Linked DNA regions of Homo sapiens. The protein of the gene in region 3 interacts with the protein of the main gene of each other region in a biochemical or structural test. Each region holds a gene or a part of one and is shown on either strand. Other genes may lie near its edges.

The links. Proteins that work in one complex are often made in the same cells at the same time.
Region 1: the proteins of TEK (region 3) and ANGPT1 form a complex in vitro, tested with the Homo sapiens proteins (6 studies listed by BioGRID and IntAct, with this or other methods).
Region 2: of the proteins of TEK (region 3) and CAV1, one has a biochemical effect on the other in vitro, tested with the Homo sapiens proteins (one study listed by BioGRID).

What each region holds. Positions count from the first base shown.
Region 1 is NC_000008.11:107,249,919-107,256,947, forward strand, and holds part of ANGPT1 (angiopoietin-1 isoform 1 precursor), read right to left. Parts: intron 6,735-7,029; exon of another isoform or gene 6,589-6,734; intron 3,931-6,588; exon of another isoform or gene 3,774-3,930; intron 3,252-3,773; exon of another isoform or gene 3,122-3,251; intron 2,098-3,121; coding exon 1,937-2,097; 3' UTR 1-1,936. UniProt on the Homo sapiens protein: Binds and activates TEK/TIE2 receptor by inducing its dimerization and tyrosine phosphorylation.
Region 2 is NC_000007.14:116,528,007-116,535,035, forward strand, and holds part of CAV1 (caveolin-1), read left to right. Parts: intron 1-7,029. UniProt on the Homo sapiens protein: May act as a scaffolding protein within caveolar membranes. Forms a stable heterooligomeric complex with CAV2 that targets to lipid rafts and drives caveolae formation. Mediates the recruitment of CAVIN proteins (CAVIN1/2/3/4) to the caveolae.
Region 3 is NC_000009.12:27,168,202-27,175,230, forward strand, and holds part of TEK (angiopoietin-1 receptor isoform 1 precursor), read left to right. Parts: intron 1-293; coding exon 294-404; intron 405-1,275; coding exon 1,276-1,428; intron 1,429-4,414; coding exon 4,415-4,546; intron 4,547-5,020; coding exon 5,021-5,161; intron 5,162-7,029. UniProt on the Homo sapiens protein: Tyrosine-protein kinase that acts as a cell-surface receptor for ANGPT1, ANGPT2 and ANGPT4 and regulates angiogenesis, endothelial cell survival, proliferation, migration, adhesion and cell spreading, reorganization of the actin cytoskeleton, but also maintenance of vascular quiescence.

The DNA of each region.
Region 1 (7,029 bases), on a different chromosome or scaffold from region 3:
GGAGAGGCTTACCTGCTATGAAGAAGCCACCAAGAATAGAAAAATGGTATAATACCTGCAAATATCACTTGTAAGGCAAAAAGGGGTAGAATACAGACACATAAATATAAAAAAGACTTGATGGTAAACTTTAAAAAGTATTTTTCTTAACAATGTGAATAGCTTTATTTTCTCAAATGGAGGAAACCATTAAGGCATAGTGGATCAAGTCACCAAGTTTGAAACTGGTATTGCTACCTTGCCAACAACTGTCTCTTTTATGAGAGGAGGCCCAGTAGCTTTATTTCAATTTTCTCATCCCATAGTGACTCATGTTTTAATAAAAACTGTTTACTGTCATAACCTTGGACACTTACAGGCAGAGAAGACTTCTTGATAAAATAATGCAGTAACTTCAAGCACCCCAAAAATTCACTTAAAATACATTATCCCATAGGAATATTTCCATTGAGTTATTTATGGCAACTAGCAGTCAGAATTTCTTAGTCAGGTGACTATGATTAATTTTCTTTTTGTATATATTTCCCTTACATATAATAGTTTTGCCAATTTTTCTCCCCTGATAATAATTTTTAAAAATTAAAAATTGCCTAAGGGAATGGACTGAAGGAGAAATATATGAAGAATGATGTATTTCATTAAGGGATATAGTAGATTTCTTTGAGCATTTGTGTTATTTGCATCAATTAAGGACAATGTTGCATATTCCAGATTAATTAGCTATTAGGTTTTTTGCAGATATAAACATGCTATGTACAATGATATTTATAATTATTTTATTTTTTATAGACTTCAAAGTGTTTCTTTTATAGACACTGGAACAGTGTGAATCTGGTAAGCATGTTTCAGTTAATTAGCAAAATTTAAATTAGCAAGACATAACAGGGTGAGTATTGGAGTTCTAAAAATATTTTTAAAATAATGAAGTTACATGTATGTATACACATGCAAGTAGATACTGTAAAATGAACTGCTCCAGAGTACTTGCTTTTACTTCAACTTAACATACTCCAAAATATTGCTTTCCTGTATAATATCAAAGGAAATATTAAATGCATGTATATTATTTTAAGAACTTGATGATATATTTTACATTCTTTTAACTTTACTCAGGCTATAAATATATTTATATATCATTCAATCAGTTTTTAGAGTAAATGAAAACCATAGTATGGGGGTGGTAAGTTTTCACCACATACATCCTTACTTGATTATGTTCATTTCTTTTTCTGAAAACTGTATCAAAAATCAGAGTAATGGAGTTTGTTTCTACCACACACTTATTGTCCATGTACTACAGTTCATTATGGCTTACAAAAATGGAATTTTCATTTGAAGATGGGTAAGCAGAAATCAACTAGTAAGTATGATACTGGAATTAGGCTTCTGAAATCCATTAACATTTAACCAACTCAGAGGACAATGCTGTTCTAAATTTTTATCAAAATTGTGCAACAGTATAATTTGTTAGTAGGTTTGCATAGATATAACACCTTTTCACTGGTATAATACATCTTTTCCAAAGGATTATGGCAGGCTTGTTTCTATTCTTCATGTATATTCTCTTTTTCACTCTTTTTTTCTGTTTTACATGAAATTAACCATATTTATCATCTGGCTACCATAGTTCCAAAATAAGGTCCAGTAGTAGTTTGAAGCACAGCAAGCTCAGCAGTTTCTTCCCTTTTTAAAGCCCGACAGTCAGTGGAGTTTTCTATAGTCGAGCCACGTGAGCACTGTCACCCCAAGTAGAGACTCTTGTGAACTCAAACGGCTCCAGATTCACGGTCAAGAACCTTGGTGACTTCACATAACTACCACTTATTGCTGGAAGGGAGACAATATTGTTTGCTTCTGAAGTTTTCAAACAGTTTCTCACCTGGCAGCTTCTCCGGATTTCTTTGTTGCTTTCATAATCGCTTCTGACATTGCGCTTTCAAAAATCTAAAGGTCGAATCATCATAGTTGTGGAACGTAAGGAGTAACTGGGCCCTTTGAAGTAGTGCCACTTTATCCCATTCAGTTTTCCATGGTTTTGTCCCGCAGTATAGAACATTCCATTTAGATTGGAGGGGCCACAAGCATCAAACCACCATCCTGAAAAAATAATTCATAATAGAAGAGAGAAGGAGAGGCAACAATTTTAAGTAAATGGAATATTTGGAAATTAATGGCATTAAATGATGGGAAACTTGCTTGTTCTTGTTATGCTTATTTGCAATTACGAGGCATCAGTAAATATATTCCCAGTAGTGAAACTGTTTTAAATGACTTCTGATTTAAGATTTGTATGACCCATCACAGACAGCAATGCTCTCATGGAAAGCAGCTTTCAGTGTGACTCCACTGGAACTCACTTCTTCTTGTAATGATGGGAAGCCTCTGGGCTTCAAGATACAATCTACATAAGAGATGGATTTACATTTAAGACAAATGCAATAAGGAAAATGCATATACCCATAAGAGGCATTCCATCTTAAGACTGTTATTGGGAATAGAACAATTAATTATTAGTGAAGAAATGCAGAAACTTAGACAAGCAACTGAGATCTAAATAGAAAGATATTCTCCATCTACTGCATATGTTTGTCAATAATTGGCCCTAAGCTGCTTCTAAAATTAATTGGATACTGTGCAATGACTATGATGCTCAAAAGGGCTTTTAATTAACGTACCCTCTCTGTAGTTTATAACAGTAGAAAAAGTGTTCAGCAATAGTAGCCATTCAGTTCCTGTACAGCCATATTTTGTCTATGGTTATTTAAGTGCTTTCCAAACTTAGTAAAAAGAAAAACAACTTGATGAGTAACATGGAAATTCTATGCTTGTATAGCTCTCTATAAGGATAACTGGATAAGTCAGTTTTATTTTTTAAATAAATTAAGTTCTTAGATTTTTAGATAAAGCATAGTGTTTTTTCCTGTCTGCTGAAGTAACACTACTGAATCTTTAGGGAGAGATTTATGCCAGAGACATTCTGGCATATTTTTTATTTGGATACAGTTGACCTCTCTTTGATTACAGACTTATACCTAAGGGACTAATAGCTAAAGAAAGAGAAAGCTGTACAGCTGATGTTTAACTGTAACATGAGCACAATCTTGCAGAAACTTTAGAAGAAGTCAAATGGAGAAAAGCTAGTTCTCATTTTTCAACTTTAGAAGATGAGTACAGCTGGCTTGTGTTTATAAAGTCACACTAGAGGCGTAACAAGCTGCATTAATCACCAGTTCATAGTGGGGAACCACAAGGTATGTCTTGATGAATTTGGAAAGACATTATATTCCGTGCAGTTTTATCAACTGTATGCAAACAACATAAATGTTAATGTAGTCAAAACATGAGGGACAAAAAGGTTCTTGTTTGGAAAAGAAGGAGGAACTGCAAGTAAAATCCTACCTTTGTTTTTCTTAAGATTAATTCTTCTAATTTTTGATCAGTACAGCTGTTAAATATGCTGTTTATATTATAAAAAGCATTCTAATATTAGTGAATTTATTTGCCCAAAAGACTCTTTCTAAAGGACTAAAATAAAACTCTAAGATGAAATTCAACTTGATTGATTCTGTTTTTAACTTTTCTCCTCCTTTTCTGTGACCTTCTTGAAGCACTTTTCCATTGCATTAATGAACTTTTTTATAGTCTTTCAAATATGCACCATGGTCTCTCAAGCAAACACACTTACTCTATTGTTGAGACTGACAATGATTCATAGAATTCTCTTCCAAGTTGCATTGGGGTAAAATGTGTGTTTTTGTTTATTTGGTTTATAGAAAGTCACAGGAGTCCCAGAGGAGTGCGGAAAGACAGACGTCTGTTGCAACAACAGCCTGGCAATAAAGAGCACAGGCTAAAGGATACGCTCATTGGGAAACTTTGGGAAAACTTAGGAAAGAGACAAGAAACAGTAAGAGCCTGTGAGAGAGTCAGGTAAATTGATCTTGTGTAGCTTTTTGAAGGAATAAAGTGGGGTAATGTTTGCAATGAGTAGAATGGCATTTTGGAGACATTGAAGGAAGGCCAGTATGGCTGGGTCACAATCAACGAGGGGGATAGTCACCTGAAGCTAAGTGGGTCTGAAGCAAATCACCCAGTGTTTTGTTCATCATCCTAAAAACAATGGAAAGCCATGGTTTGTATATTGGCCCATCTCCTGTACTTAGTAGGACACCTAACGAAGTTTGCTTCCCAAATGACCGGCGGGTCACTGCAGGCTTGTTAACTGATTGACTCTCTGATTGGTTCTCCTTGTGAAGTCTTTGTTGTCTGAAGTTGTTTAGCTTACTAAAATGCTGTATTTGATAGATACCCCAAAATGTAACACCTGTCCTTATTGTATTCATTTTTTTCTTTATGTATCCATTCAATATATAATTATTGTGAAACGTTGTTACACAATACTCAAGACAGACATAGTCCTTGCCTTCATGAAACTCACTTCTAATGGGAGAAACAGATGAATATATGTAAGCAGGCACATAAAATAACTATTAGGTTGGTGCAAAAGTAACTGCGGTTTTTGCCATGACTGTTATTGACAAAAAACGCAATTACTTTTGCACCAACCTAATATAAATTATGACTTAAAATGTCATGAAGAAAATACGTAGGAGCTCTGAAGGAGAATAACTTGACTTTTCACATTTGTGAAAGAAGCTGATATTTAACGAGACCAGAAGGAGGAGAGAGACAGCCCCAAGAAGATGGGAAAAGACCCTGCTAAGCAGAATACAGCACCTGCAAAGGCGATGAGGAAGAAAACAAGCTTGGGATGTGTAGGGACATCAGTGCAACTGGTGCACAGTAAACAAGAAATGACTTGCAGGAAATGAAGGTGGAGGAATAGGCAGTCCTGGTGAGAAGTTCAATGTTTATGGAACAATTTGTAGTTTAGCCAGCCTGCTTGTCCATGATCAGGCAAACAAGTAAAACATTCTCTACAGATGGGAACCACAATCGAACCAGAAGAACCAGATCTGCTAGGTTAAATGTTTAATCAAACATGGTTTAGAGTCCTCATTCTCTACGATCTTCCAAAGCCATCCTGAGCATATGTGACAGCTTAAAAAAAAAAAGGAGAAAATTGAGTCTAGAATCAATTCTGCAAATATTAACCAATGGATAGGGATAGGGGACAGAAATTTTTGGAAACAAAATTTCTGACTTTAAAGCATGCACAGTTTTGTGTAGGAGACAAACAAAATGCTACACATTGAGATGATAGCCGTTAAACTAAGAGAAGAAGAAAATTTGATGGAAACACAGAGGCAGTAGGTGCTAACTGTCTGAGGGACCACAAAGCTCACTCATTCAACAGCTGCTCTGGGTCCTGAAAGATGGGTATGAGTTCACTGGACAGAAAGAGCTTCTATATAGTCTGTACTCTGGAAGACCAGGGGAGAGTGTCTGCCAGCAGGTTGGCTTGGCTGGAGTGCCAGTGGGTTAAAGGGTTGGAGAATATAGGGCTAAAAAATAAACAGGAGGGAAAACATAAAGGTTTTTATTACACCTTTAGACATTTTCTTTTGGGCAATGGGAAGCCTGGAGAGCGCCGGAGCAGAAGTTAGAAGACCCAGACTTTTCATGCTTACTTCATCAATAAATAACCAAGAGATCCTACACAATAGTACCAATAGTATTTGATATTTATTGAATCGTTCATATGAAGGTATTTATATGCATTTTCTCATTTTATCCCCCAAACAGCCTTAAGTGATGTGGCAAGTACCATAATAAAGATACTAATGCTCACAGAGTTTAAGGAACTGCTTAAGGTCACATTCATAATACATAGATTCTAAGAGCTAACCAACCATTTTCACAGCACAGTTATAAGAATCAAATAAGATAATGCACTATTACAGCCTGTAAAATCCTACTAAAGTGCCAGCTGTAAGTTATCTAGAAAATGGGGCAGAATGTTTAGGCCAGAAAAAAAAGAGACAAGACCTTGTGGAGCATCACAGTAATTTAATAATAAAGACAAGGTCATCAGTGCCAACATATTTTCTTATTTGCTTAGTGGGGTTTATTAGAGAAATATGAAAATAATTAGACCCAAATAAGTACAACTGTACAATGTTCATGTTATAAAAACTTGGCATTTAAGTTCCTAATTTTTTTAAATGTTTCATTTTGATTTCATGACAAATCAAGGAGTTTGAAATGTTCAATTAACTCTTTATCTTAAGACTAGTGGGCCATGAATTCTGTGATCTATCTCAGAGCAACTGATAATAAAGATGATGAATTAAGATGGAAGAAAATGAAATAAAAGAGCAATTATTTCTCATGACAATTTCAGTTTTATTATAAAATATCCTAACTTCAAGGTAGAAGAAGTAATTACTTCTGTGTAGGCAAGGATTCTCTGTTTTCTTTGATATATACATTAAAACAAACTAAATAATTTGTTCGTATCAAATATTTCAAACAGTTTGTCCACTTTCTACCTTTATTTTTAAAAATTAAGCATGGCCAAGTCTTTTAAACACAAATCCTGAAAATATGTGGTTTAAAGCATTTTTTCAATGCAGGCAAAAGTATAGCAGACTCCTCATTACTCATATGCATTCCTTGTATTTACAGGTGATCATAGATACTCAGTACATATGGTAAATCTGCATGGGATGAAGATGTTCTATGAATATACAGAAGAGTATGCCTGAGTTTACAGTTCCTCTCTGATAAGATTCTGAATAGCTGAATTATATATTCTGTGCAATCCTGGGAAAACACTGACTTTGTATTTTGTTTATGCTTGGGAATAACAAATAAGAAATATCCTAGAGCAATTCATTTAGGGAAGGCACTTCAAGCCTGAAAGAACTCAATGATGCAAGCAAAGGATTGAAAAAAAAGTTACCCTCTGCTATTGGGACAACTGATAAAATGTCTCAAATGTTTTTTTGTTTTGTTTTGTTCTGTTTTTTTTTTTGTTTTGTTTTGTTTTTTTTGAGATGGAGTCTCACTCTGTCACCCAGGCTGGAGTGCAGTGGCACAATCTTGGCTCACCGCAACCTCCGCCTC
Region 2 (7,029 bases), on a different chromosome or scaffold from region 3:
AGAAAATAGAATTGCTAAAAAACTATTTACTAAAAACATTACCTTAAAGGGAGAGGATATTTGTGTTTTCCCCCACCCCCACCCTTCTCATGTGGCTTTGAACAAGAAGGAGAGTTGCCAGGAAAAGAGGCAGATTTCAGAGAGGGCTGGCTTCACTGGATCCTCCCTGTTGTTCCACTGCACTGTGAGTGAGATTCCCTGGAGCAAGCGAATCTCCCGGGATGAGTCAGAGAGGCCAACAGTGTGGATGTGGGTCTCCACACATAGCATGACTAAGTTGAGAAAGAAAGGCCCCACTGGGAAAAGAGACTTCAACACAGATGGAAAAAAAACATAACAGGCTTGGAGGAAATAGCAGTTTACAAAACAGCATTTCAAAGAGCAAGTGTGGGGATCCTCAAATTAAAGAAATTAAAAGAAAAAGCTAGAGCAAGCTCCTGCTAGCCTAAAGAAACCAAACCCTGACTACTTGCTCATAGAACTGTGAGCAAAACAAGACAGTCAAACCAAAAAATCCACCTAGAAAAGAATTTGGCAGTCTCACTCAGATGCCTGGCCTAGAGGGGACTTCAGAGAATGCCCTACAGAGAGACACCAAGACTACAAATGCAAATTCTGCCCAAAGAGTGCCTGGCCGATGAACAGGGTCCTATCTACATCTTATGGAGACTCCTATTTTATAAATATGTATCCTCAAGTCCAAGCACAAACAAAATAACAGAAACAGGGATGATTCTCTCCCAGTTTCCATGACAGTAAATAATAAATTTCCCTAAATTTTACTTTCAACAACATAGACTTTTTTTATTTTTATTTTTATTTATTTATTTATTTATTTTTTGAGACGGAGTCTCACTCTGTCACCCAGGCTGGAGTGCAGTGGCATGATCTGGGATCACTGCAACCTCCACCTCCCAGGTTCAAGCAATTCTTCTGTCTCAGCCTCCTGAGTAGCTGGGACTACAAGTGCACGCCACCATGCCGGGTTAATATTTGTATTTTTAGTGGAGACGGGGTTTCACCATGTTGGCCAGGCTGGTCTTGAACTCCTGACCTCAAGTGATCCACTGGTCTTGGCCTCCCAAAGTGTTGGGATTACAGATGTGAGCCACTACACCTGGCCAACAACACAGACTTCTTAAAAAAATCATGACAATAATTTTGGGTGCTTCTTAAAAGCACCCAAAGCTTTACTGCTAATGCATGGTAGCTTAAAACTTCACATAATAAGAAAGAACCAGTGGCCAATGGAATCTACTGTTAAAGGTACCCAATCAAGTAAGGAAAAGTTGGTCCTAAAAGCAAGCAGCCCTGTAAAAGCTGCTCTGTCCAATATGGTAATCACTAGCCATTTGTGTTTCCATTTAAATTTCAAGTAATTAATATCAAGTAAAATTTAAAATTCAGTTCCTTAGTCACACTAGCCACGTTGTGAGTGTGCAACAGGTAAAGCTAGTGGCACAGACATAGAACATTTCCATCAGCACAGAAATCTCTATTGGACAGTGCCAGATTAGGGTGTTCTCTGCATTGTAAAAGCATCCCCTTGCCAAGTTAAAGAAAACAACAACAAAACTCTAGAGAAGAAATGAAACCCCAGTTTCATTTCTGGAGAGGAAAGAAAACTCATGTGTGGCATGAGTTTATATTCAAGAAGGTGCAGCATTATTACCTATTTTACTAGTAATAATGACACACATTATAGTATACAATCCAGTTCCAATAAAATTAATTTCTCATCTTACTAAAAGCTTGCTGCTCCACATTATGAGACAATTTACCCAAATATAGACATTTACCCAAAAATATTAAGTAGCTTGTGAATACTTTTTAAAATTTCCTTTAATTAAAGTGGTCACAAACTCAAACCCTTCATTCTCCCTCTGAGATTTCTGTGTCATCTTTTGTTCACATTGTTATTCACATGTTTATTATGTACTTATTTTGATTTTCTAGATAAATAAAATGGCTTCAAATCTATAATTCTGATAAAATTAGCCATCAATTAATTTATTTATTAAACCCATGCAATATGCTAGATTAGATGCTTTGCTATGTAATTCCTACAATAAATCCTAGCAATCACAAAGATTACAGTTAGTGAGACGACATGCACACAGGTAAAAAGTGTTTTTAAAAAATACATACATACAACCAAAACAGTAAGTCACTGCTACATGGAAACTGATTGGTCCTTTTTCCTTTTTTTTTTTTTGCCTTGACTGCCAGGAAGCAGTTTCAAATCTATAGCTGGATTTTAAGTTTCATTAATTCATGTTCCCACATATGGTTCTGTATTTTCACTTCCCCCTTTTAACTGACATACTGTCTTATGTGATCTCTACTGTAAGCCTTCTCATCATTTTGGAAACAGACCAAATATAATATATATGATAAGGAATCAAAAGTAAATACAGTAGTGTTGAATATTGCATAACAAAAAGGTTTTTAAATAGGGAATGGTATCAATATGAAGTGTTAGGGAGACCCAGCCATGAAAAGGATAGCAGGGTCAGAGAAGGAGGATGTATTGCAGCTGGTTTAATGGAGAATGGTATGAAGGAGGTGCAGTTTGAATTGGGTCATGGAGGACAGATGGATTGCAAATAGCTGGGGCAAAAGCACAGGAAGGCATTCTAAACGAGCCAGGCATGGAGACAAGAATGTCTCCCACAAGGGAGTTGTAGTAGCTCAATCAGACTGGGATTTGAGATTTCATGTGGCAGAGTGGTAGGTGATAAAGGTGAAAAGACTGATCATAGTAAAATGCGGAGTCTGTAAATCCAGCACTCATGATAAGTTTGGACATCATGTCAACAGTGGACAGCCATAAATGACTGCAAGCATCGGTGTGGTATAATGAAGGTGACGTTTTTGTAAAATGACTCTGGTGAAGGTACAGAAGGTAATGAAAAGTAGCCAGTCTAGTTGAGCAGAAAAGAGTTCAGATGTAATTGCATCATGGTCCAGATGTGAAATGAAGACAATGCGAAGTGGCATTGTGGATCGAAACATACATGCACAAAATGACAGAATTTTAGAATTTGAAGGGATCATCATGGTTACCAGGCTGGCCTCCAATTCCTCTTTTGTAATATTAATAGAAATTAAGGGCTAACAAGTTTAAAATGTTATCCATCTTTTTACATAGTTACTGCCCAAAGTGAATATTTTGAAATGTATCATTAAAGAAGAATAGATAAGATTATGTGATTCACCATGGACTATTGTCATGAGAGGAAAAATGTGTTTAGATGATTCTGTTAGCACTGAGACAAATCAGGATATCTGAAAGGAGGTCTTTGTTGAAAAACAGAAATATGCATTCATAACTTGCTTTTCTAAAATTGGAATGTAATGATTCTTAAATATGCACAGACACAAATTTTTCTTTAACAGTCAAGAAAATGCACGCAGGTGATAATCAGATCAGTTTTGGTTATAGTACAAAGGTTTAATGCCTCCGTGATCCCTTTCAACTTGAAAGCATTCTAGAGCAATTGGTGATTAATATCAGTATAACAGTCATTTATAAAATTATTATTTATTTGATATACATCTAATCAAAGCATAAGATTTATTTTTATTATTATTATTATACTTTAAGTTTTAGGGTACATGTGCACAATGTGCAGGTTAGTTACATATGTATACATGTGCCATGCTGGTGCGCTGCACCCACTAACTCGTTGTCTAGCATTAGGTTTAAAAGATCAGATTGTCTCGGCACCATGTTAATATCTTTTTCTGTTGGCATTAGTATTAGTTTTGCTTGTGTATTTGTTTAGGAGATAGCTTCACAAGTTGGTGATTGATATTCTACCATGTATGAAGTCATGCGTGGAATTCAGAATCCCCAGCTTGTAAAATTGCATTATGATCATCTTTAGTGGGAAATTGTTCTCAGAATACTGAGCAAAGGATGATACCAAAATGGCAGCTATTATTCATTCTTAAGCATATGAAATGCTTTCAGGTTCAACCCAAAATTACATACATTTTAAATGCTTACTAAAAGAGTCTTTTCCCTCCTCCATCTATTAACTGCAATCAAAAAACTTCGGTTTTAACTGAACATGATTTCATATTATTTATTAAAATTTAAGGCAAGGTGCACCAAGTACCCTTGAATTATGAAAAGCTTCATGATGTGGGATATTCTTTCAGTTAACGGCAGGGTTGGCTACACTTTTAAGGGGTTCAAAGTAGGAACAGCTGCAATAGTGAGCTGCATCTGGAAAGTCCAGTAATTTGAAAAACCACCTGTTTATGTATCCTGCCCACTCAAGTCCATAAAATAACAGACACTTTCATATTCCAAATGAAACTGCTTTTTAGTTTGCCCTACTTTTAAACATAACTCTTTGTGATGGAATGACCAGAAACAGCTGGTCTCTAAGAGGACAGGGCTATGTGCGCTCACCTGCGGGGTTGGACCTTCCATAATCCCCCTGGCTGTGGGGAAAGTTGAGGGCTGCTGTCTTTATACAAAGATGGTTTATTCCAAGATACACACACTCTTCTTCCACACCCTGGAGACCTTGCATATTTAGTATCTTCTTTACCATAATCTGAGGCCCTAGAGAAAAAGATTTGCAAACTATACTTGTTTTAAAACAACTTTCTAAAAAAGACACTCTCAGCCCCTAGAAATTATGCCTAACACATAGATGCTCAGAGGCAACCTGTTGTAGTGCAAGAGGATTGTGCCAAGATTAGAAAACAAATATTTGCAACTTTTGTAACTGTCTTCTCTAAAACTTGAATGTGGTGATTCTAAAGTAAAGACCGACACAAAATTCTTTTTCTTTAGCAGTCAGGAAAAGGCATGCATGAAGTAATCAGATCAGGTGTGGTTTCAGCATAATGGCCTAATGCTTTCATGATCTCTTTCAACTGGAAAGCGTTCTAGTCCCACTGGACACCAAGGAGGAAGAAGGGACGGAAAATATTAGGCCCATAGGTTTATCTTCCTCAGTAGTCCACGAGATTTGAGCTTATATGTAGGGAGCAAAATTGTTTGTCTAAAAGCAGTTAATAAATGCCCCAAAAAGGCTGGGCGCAGTGACTCACTCCTGTAATCCCAGCACTTTGGGAGCTCAAGATTGGTGGATCATGAGGTTAGGAGAGCAAGATCATCCTGGCCAACACGGTGAAACCCCATCTCTATGAAAAATACAAAAATTAGCTGGGTGTGGTAGCGCGTGTTTAATCCCAGCTACTGGGGAAGCTGAGGCAGGAGAATGGCTTGAACCCAGGAGGCCAAGATTGCAGTGAGCCAAGATTGCGCCACTGCACTCCAGCCTGGTGACACAGCGAGACTCCGTCTCAAAAAATAAAATAAATAAAATAAAATAAAATAAAATAAAATAAAATAAAATAAAATAAAATAAAATAAAATAAAAATAAAATGAACGCCCCAAAAATATTTTGGGCAAACTATTTTGTGTTTCTTTTCTTTATTTATTTATTTCTTTTGAGACAAAATCTTGCTCTGTTGCCCCGGCTGGAGTGCAATGGCACAATCTTGGCTCACTGTATCCTCAACCTCCTGGGCTCAAGCAACTCCTGAGTAACTGGGACCACAGGGATGTGCCACAATTCCCGGCTAATTGTTTTAGCCAGGATATAAATGCTGCCTACATAGAGTTTGTAGCTATCTCCTTGACTTTCTTTATGCAGATTCCTTCACAAACTTTTGATGGATTCCTTTACCAAATTCTACTGTCTGTTAAAATCTTCTATCTTTATATCTTTAGTCCAAACAACACGTCATTTATAAACCTTAAAATTGTTTCTGGGCAAATAAACAAGGCAAAATAGGAATATATATTTTTAGGCAATTTACTTCTGTTTTGGTCTCATAAAAAATTGTAATTAAATTGTAGAAAATATTTCAATTCCTCTTTAATATCCTCTCCTCACATACTGGCTCTCAACTTCTAATCCTCCTATTGAAACATTGATTGGGAGGCCAAGGCAGGCGGATCAACTGAGGTCAGGAGTTTGAGACCAGCCTGGCCAACATGGTGAAACCCTGTCTCTACTAAAAATACAAAAGATTAGCTGGGCATGGTGGCATGCACCTGTAGTCCCAGCTACTTTGGTGGCTGAGGCACGAGAATCGCTTTAACCCGGGAGGCAGAAGTTACAGTGTGCCAAGATCAAGCCACTGAACTCCAGCCTGGGCGACAGAGTGAGACTCCATCACAAAAAAATAAAAATAAAAATTGAAATTTGCAGCCTTTTTAAAACCCCATAGCCTCTTTATAAACCCAAAAGCACTATCAAATTTGGCGAGGTGTCAAAAGAATCAGAGGAATGTTTACAAATACAGATGCCTGGGCCCACCTCAGATATATATATATATATATATATATATATATATATTTTTTTTTTTTTTTTTTTTTTGAGACGATGTCTTGCTCTGTCACCCAGGCTGGAGTGCAGTGGCATGATCTCAGCTCACTGCAAGCTCCGTCTCCCGGGTTCACGCCATTCTCCTGCCTCAGCCTCCCAAGTAGCTGGGACTACAGGCGCCCGCCACCACGGCTGGCTAATTTTTTCTATTTTTTAGTAGAGACAGGGTGTCACCGTGTTAGCCAGGATGGTCTCAATCTCCTGACCTTGTGATCCGCTCGCCTCGGCCTCTCAAAGTGCTGGGATTACAGGCGTGAGCCACTGCACCCGGCCCAGATATATTAAATTAGAATATCTAGAGGTGGAGCCTGAGTATCTGTATTTTTCAGAGTTTCAAATGATCGTTCTTCAAATGATTACACTGTGAAGTCAGATTTAGAAATGACTGTACCCAAGGTTGGCTAAAAGATACACACCCTGGTTGATTCTACCTGAAGAGAGCAAATAAGATACACAGCAAAGTTGTAGATGTTTTCCCTGCCAGTAGAATACTTGCGGGTTAGGCCATTTAAAACCCTGCCAGAGAGTTTTGAAACACTGTGGAGGGCTCCCAAATCAACTTGCTCAATGGTTCTCCATCCCTTCAGGCTACTTGGGCTTAAAGCCAAC
Region 3 (7,029 bases):
AACACAAAGTCCTCATCTCCCCAACCACTGAATAGAAAAATTGTGTATAGGCATATTGTTTGTATATATTTACACTCTTATAAAGGAAGTGACCATCCCTTTCATCAGATTCTTAGAAAGGTACATAATGTTAAGAAAGGTTAAAACGCATTAGCCACCACTGTTTTTCACCTTCCAAAAACCATCTGACACCTAGCAAGTGCCAGCCCTCATTTTCTGAGTCTCAAAGCTCAATTGCTCCTGGAGAAAATGTGTGATCCCATTTTTGGTATTTGTTTTCTCTCTTTTAAAAGCTTCCTTCCTACCAGCTACTTTAACTATGACTGTGGACAAGGGAGATAACGTGAACATATCTTTCAAAAAGGTATTGATTAAAGAAGAAGATGCAGTGATTTACAAAAATGGTGAGTATGTGTTTCATTGCTTTCCCCAGTATGATGTGAGATATCAGATAACATACAACATATTGAATCATTTTCCTATTGTGGTCTTGTGGGCAGATGTTTGAATTAAAGCTGCTATGATGCAAGCTTTCAAATTCTGTGTATGATAGAAGCCCTCTTAGGTGACATATTTGGTTACTTAAGGATATTAAAGTGGAATTCATATATATGAATGTACATGGTGTATGTACATACAATAAAACCCCATCATAATGTGAGATCCCAACTTCAGCCATATAAAGTGTGAGTTTCTTTGATTGTGACATTGTTGATTGCAAGGTTTAGGAAATTACCACAGTAAACATGGGAAGCCAATTGTTAGCAGTTCTGGCAGTCCAACTGTGTAATCCAAATGTGTCTAGGTCCTAGCTATGGTTTCGTACCACCCAGTGTCAGTTGCCTGATCCAGCTGGAATATTGATGGGGATCATTCTGAAGTCTGTGAGTGGATAGGACTTCCAGATTGGAGTAGCGATTATAGATATCTCCTGGTTAATTGGTTAGTTGACAGGGTTACCTATCATTTTTCACCTAACTTTGCCTGCCAACTATGTTCGCCTCTCCCTGTAGAATGTAAGAACTTAGACCACCCCCATCTTCATGTGTTTGGTGGTAGATCCCACAGACTAACCTATCTGTTCTATCACTATGACTTTCTTGACTATTGAGAGAGTACTGAATAGTTCAGCATTTTCATTCTTCTCCCACATCCAATATGTGAGAGCACATTTTCTTGACCATGTCAGGGAAAGCTAATTAAGTGGAGAAACCAGACAAGGAAGCAGGTATGTTTCAGTGTGACCTACGGTTCTTCACTCTTCCCTCTTACTAGGTTCCTTCATCCATTCAGTGCCCCGGCATGAAGTACCTGATATTCTAGAAGTACACCTGCCTCATGCTCAGCCCCAGGATGCTGGAGTGTACTCGGCCAGGTATATAGGAGGAAACCTCTTCACCTCGGCCTTCACCAGGCTGATAGTCCGGAGTAAGTGATGGAGAGGCCACCATTTGTGATGGTGTAGTTGTTAGGTTGTTAGGATTTTTAGTTGCAAATAACAGAAACTAACCATGGCTTCTTAAGCAAAAACCAGGCATTGGTTGGAGGTTGTATTAGTCTGTTCTTATGCTGCAAAGCAAATGAATAAGAGATAGCAATCATTAGAGGAATGACAGAGAAACCCAGGTATTTAGACCTGAAGACTTAAATATTTAATATTACAAATACTTGATACAGCTGGGGAAAACTCAGGGCAAATCATTTTCTTTTCTCAGGGCAAATCATTTCTAATTTCACATGCTCTTTATTGAGACATACCTGAGACTGGGTAATTTATTAAGGGAAGAGGTTTAATTGACTCACAGTTCAATATGGCTGGGGAGACATCAGGAAATTTACAATCATGGCAAAAGAGGAAGCAAACACATCCTTCTTCACATGGCGGCAGGAGAGAGAAGAATGAGAGTGAAGGAGAGGGGGAAGCACCATATTAAACCATCAAATCTCATGAGAACTCACTCACTATCATGTGAACAGCATGAGGGCAACTGCCTCCATGATTAAATGACCTCTTACCTCCTACTGGGTTCCTCCCACAACACGTGGGGATTATGGGAACTACAATTCAAGATGAGATTTGGGTAGGGACACAGCCAAACCATACCAGACGGGGACACTAAGGACTCTTAATAAACTGATGGGAAAGCTGAAAAGTGGCTGGGTACGGTGGCTCATGCCTGTAATCTCAGCACTTTGAGAGGCCCTTTGAGCTCAAGAGTTTGAGACCAGCCTGGGCAACATGGCAAAACCCCGTCTCTACAAAAAATACAAAAATTAGCCAGGCATGGTGATGCATGCCTGTAGTTCTAGCTATTTGACAGGTTGAGGTGGGAGGATAGTTCAAGCTCGGGAGGTCGAGGCTGCAGTGGGCCAGGCTGGTTGAAAGAGCAAGACCTTGTCTCAAAAACAAAAACAAAAACTATAAAGCAAGTTCCAGAAAAGATAAGCTTCAAGGAAGAGCTGAGGCTCAGTTGTGGTGGGTGTGGGGAGGTAAGGGAGTGGGCTTTCTCTCTAAGATGCTGCTTTTACCATGTCTCAGCTTCAGCAATGTTTCTTTCACTTCCAAATTTTGAATTTCCAGGATAAATAATCAGATTGGCCTAACATATATTAGATGTCTATCAGCCTAGACCAGTGAGCTATAGACAAGGGTGGAGTCACGTACTACACGTTACAGGCACTAGAAGCTCACATTTGTACAGCATAATCATCCATATAAAAAGGGGGATCACAACGAGTAAAGCAGTCTCACTGAAACGTGTCTGCTCTAGGGGGATGAGTTGGACCTCTTGGGTTAGACTAACATCTGCTTAAACATTGCCTCCTGTAAATCCCACACTTCCCAGGTCATTTAACTCTTATGTGTGATTTTTATTTTCAGTTTTGAAAAATGTAAGAGTTAGAACTAGTAAAAACTTTTTTTCTCCATTATAACTATTGAAGTGGGGGCATAAATATCACCATTACATTTTCCTGTAATTTTTACAGGAACTTCACAAATAGAAAGAAAATGATTTGCCCTGAATTTTCCCCAGCTAGATCAGGTTTTCATAATATTAAATATTGAAGTCTTCAGGTCTAAATGCCTGGGCTTCTCTGTCATTCCTCTAACGATTGCCATCTCCAATTCATTTGCTTTGCGTTATGTTCCCCCATTCATTTACCAAAATGTGTTGGTCATAACTCTGTGCCAAGAATTGTGTTGGTGTTGAGAATACAGGATCATAAGATAAATCCGTGTCCTTTGGGTCATTCCCAATCAGAGTAGGCACGTGTATAATTAGCTAAATAAATATTGAAAAATGACAATAGAAGTATGAGAAGTGTGGTTCCTCTAGTTTATGCTCCATGCTTAGCCACCTCTATGGACATAAAATATAGCAAGGTGTTTTATAGGCAGGACTATTTGGGCTTGAGTCGAGGGGAATCTTTCCACGTACCCAAGACCTATTTCCTTCTGGATGACTACTGTGCTTGACTTCTATTAAATGTCAGAGCAGCCTTTTTGTAATATGAATCTTAAAAAATATAATTTATGATGATAGCAAAACTGCAATATTCAGCTTCTAGTAGCTTGCCTCACAGCTACCTTTACATGAAGTTTCTGTGGACTTGGGAGAAGCAAGTGACATCCCCTTTTATTCCACTACTCAGGAGAGTCTGAATGTCAAGGAAGCAATTTGCCTTTATTTCATTTAGCTAGTTTCTCTGGAGTCTGATATAACACCATGTACTAGGTGTACTCAGAGGGTAAATGGGGTACATCTTCTAGGAAGGTCAGACATACCTATACATGTTGATATATAGTTGTTTGAGATAGGAAAACCAAAGTGTTTTTCCTAATCTCTGCTCTCACTGAACACAACACTTCTGACACCAATGTGCACAGATTACTACGCCACTTCTAGAATTTCTCATTCAGTAGGTCGTGGTTGGGTGGGATCTGGGGTTTGCATTTCTAACAGATTCCCAGATGATGGGGATGCTACTGGTCAGAGACCACACTTTGAAAACCACAGCTCCAGCCTGTAACCATACCTGCAGCTCCCTGGACATGCCATGCTGTCTTCCCATGCCTTGTCTTTGCCTGGAAGACACTCTCCAGCCTTATCTTCTTTGCTACTTAGTTGGTCCTGCAGATTCAGCTTGCATACCATATCCTCTGGGAAGCCTTCCTTTATGCCCTCTTCTATCCACCAGACAGAGTTAGGTACTCCTTGTCTTTGTTTCTGTCGCGATTTCCTGTTTACATGTCTGTCTCCCATATTAGATGATGAGCTTTTAGAGAGCAGAGCCTGTATTTTATCTTTATTCACCATTGTCCACTGAATGACTGACACACAGTAGGTGCTCAATAAAGATGTGTTGAGCGAATGCGCTCTACTCACCACAGCCTTGTTTTCCTTAACAAAAGGATGTGAAGCCCAGAAGTGGGGACCTGAATGCAACCATCTCTGTACTGCTTGTATGAACAATGGTGTCTGCCATGAAGATACTGGAGAATGCATTTGCCCTCCTGGGTTTATGGGAAGGACGTGTGAGAAGGGTAAGTAAAGAGACTTGATAAGTAAGCTGTGGATTTAAAAAGCCATCGTTGCTGGATCTAGAATTTTAGATCTCGACACAGATGGGAATGGACGCTAAATGGCCTCTGTTAGGTCAGATGGTACCTGTGTGTGAATTAGAAAAAGGTGCCTTTTCCTAAAGGTTCTTTAATGCCAACCACTGGAAAGTTATAATAAATATACAGATCCGTGATGTTTACAGTGTGAATGCTGCCCCCTAGGTTTGTGCACTGCACAAACCTGCATGATTGTGAGTGATGTCCCTGATGTCTGCTCTGTGGGGCAGTTTCATTATCAGTAAAATGGGCCATAAGGGTATGTTCATCCTACCATGCCACAGCTGAGATTTGACTGTTTCCCATATTCACTAGACTAGGAGAAATGAATCTAAAGAATTATGTATTTCAAGGGGTTGCATATTTGACTCTGAATCATCTTTTCTTTTCCTCCCAAAGCTTGTGAACTGCACACGTTTGGCAGAACTTGTAAAGAAAGGTGCAGTGGACAAGAGGGATGCAAGTCTTATGTGTTCTGTCTCCCTGACCCCTATGGGTGTTCCTGTGCCACAGGCTGGAAGGGTCTGCAGTGCAATGAAGGTATGCACCAATCACACCCTTGGACAGAGGATGTTCTAGCAGGTATATAAAGGAGATCCAGTTTGCTGTCAATCACAACATCGGATATACCTGGACTGCTTAGCTACCCACTACTGGACAACAGGATTTTGAATCATGGATGTTTACATCCAATGTTAATTATACTTTCACAGTAAAAATCTAGACCGCATAGAAAGTACTTCTCATAACTATCATCTGGGGATCTTTACTAAAGCACGGATTCTGATTTGGTAGGCATGGACTGGGGCCCGAGGTTCTGCATTTCTAACAGGCTCCCAAGTAGTTCCGATGTTACTGGTTTTCAGACCATGCTTTGAGTAGGAAGACCATAGAAGACTTGTTTTTTTTTTTTGGTTTTTTTTTTTTTTTTTTTTCAGTGAATCATAAAATCACAGCTTTAGCCAGGCATGGTAGCACATGCCTGTTGTCCCAGTTATTCAGGAGGCTGAGGCAGGAGGATCCCTTGAGCCCAGGAGTTTGAAGCTGCAGTGAGCTATGATTGCACCACTACACTCCAGCCTGGGCAACAGAGTGAGACCTCGTTTAAAAAAAAAAAAATCAAAATCAGAGCTTTTATGTCAGATCCAGACAGGATTTGGGGCTCAAAAATTGAAGAAGTTAAAATCTTACCTGCCGTGGACCTTATGCAAGTAGTACTAACATCATCTACTCAGAGTCCCTCTGCCCTTTGTAAAATAAGCTTTCCCATTTGACCAGGCTCTGTGGAGTGCATCTGACATCCACTTTTCAGTATGCATTTCACATCTACTGTTGCATAGTAGCTCAACATGAACCTGCAGACAAATGTGACAGAACCTCCCTAATGTATATTAATACTGTGAATTAGCCAGAGCTCAAAGGCTTTTCAGTGTTTATCTCACAAAGTCAGCTTTTCCCATATCCGGCACTAAAGGTAGCTACGATGGGGTCCCAGCAACTTGATAACAATGCTCCAGGGCAGAGCAGTTCAGTAGAAATATAAGCCATCCACATATAGAATTTAAAATTTTCTAGTGTCCACATTAAAAAAGTGAGGAGAAATAGGTGAAATAATTTTGATCTATTAACCCAATATGTTAAAAACATTATCAGTTCAACATGTAATCAATAGAAAAAAGTATTAATGAGATATTTTACATTCCCTTTTTCATAGTAAGTCTTTGAAATTTCAGTTTGGACTAGCTATATTTTAAGAGTTCCATAGCCACACGTGGCTAACTGTACTGGACAGCATAGCTCCAGGGGCTTGGAGGAGGAGGACAAAGAGGAGAGTTACACAAAAGTAAGCTTCAGCCACCTGCAATACCTCATTCAGTTCCCTCTAAATGCTATGTCTGCCCCCCGGAACATGCAGTGAGCCACAGCAGTGGAGAAATCCCATCTGGCCTCTGAAGTGTGTATGTTAAGGTAAAAGGTGACTCCAGGCAGGGGGCAGATCCCTTGTATTTTAAAAAAAATTAAAATGTTACGCAAACTATGAACACTTTGCTAGGACCCAGGAAGCGGTGCATGCCAGCAGTCTCTAGAACATAAACTTCATCAGCTTTGTAGTGAATGTGTCTCTGGGCCCAGGTTTTTTTGTTTTTTTTTTAATTCTTTTTATTATTATTATTATTATTATACTGTAAGTTTTAGGGTACATGTGCACAATGTGCAGGTTAGTTACATATGTATACATGTGCCATGCTGGTGTGCTGCACCCATCAACTCGTCATTTAGCATTAGGTATATCTCCTAATGCTATCCCTCCCCCCTCCCCCCACCCCACAACAGTCCCCAGAGTGTGATGTTCCCCTTCCTGTGTTCATGTGTTCTCACTGTTCAATTCCCATCTATGAGTGAGAACA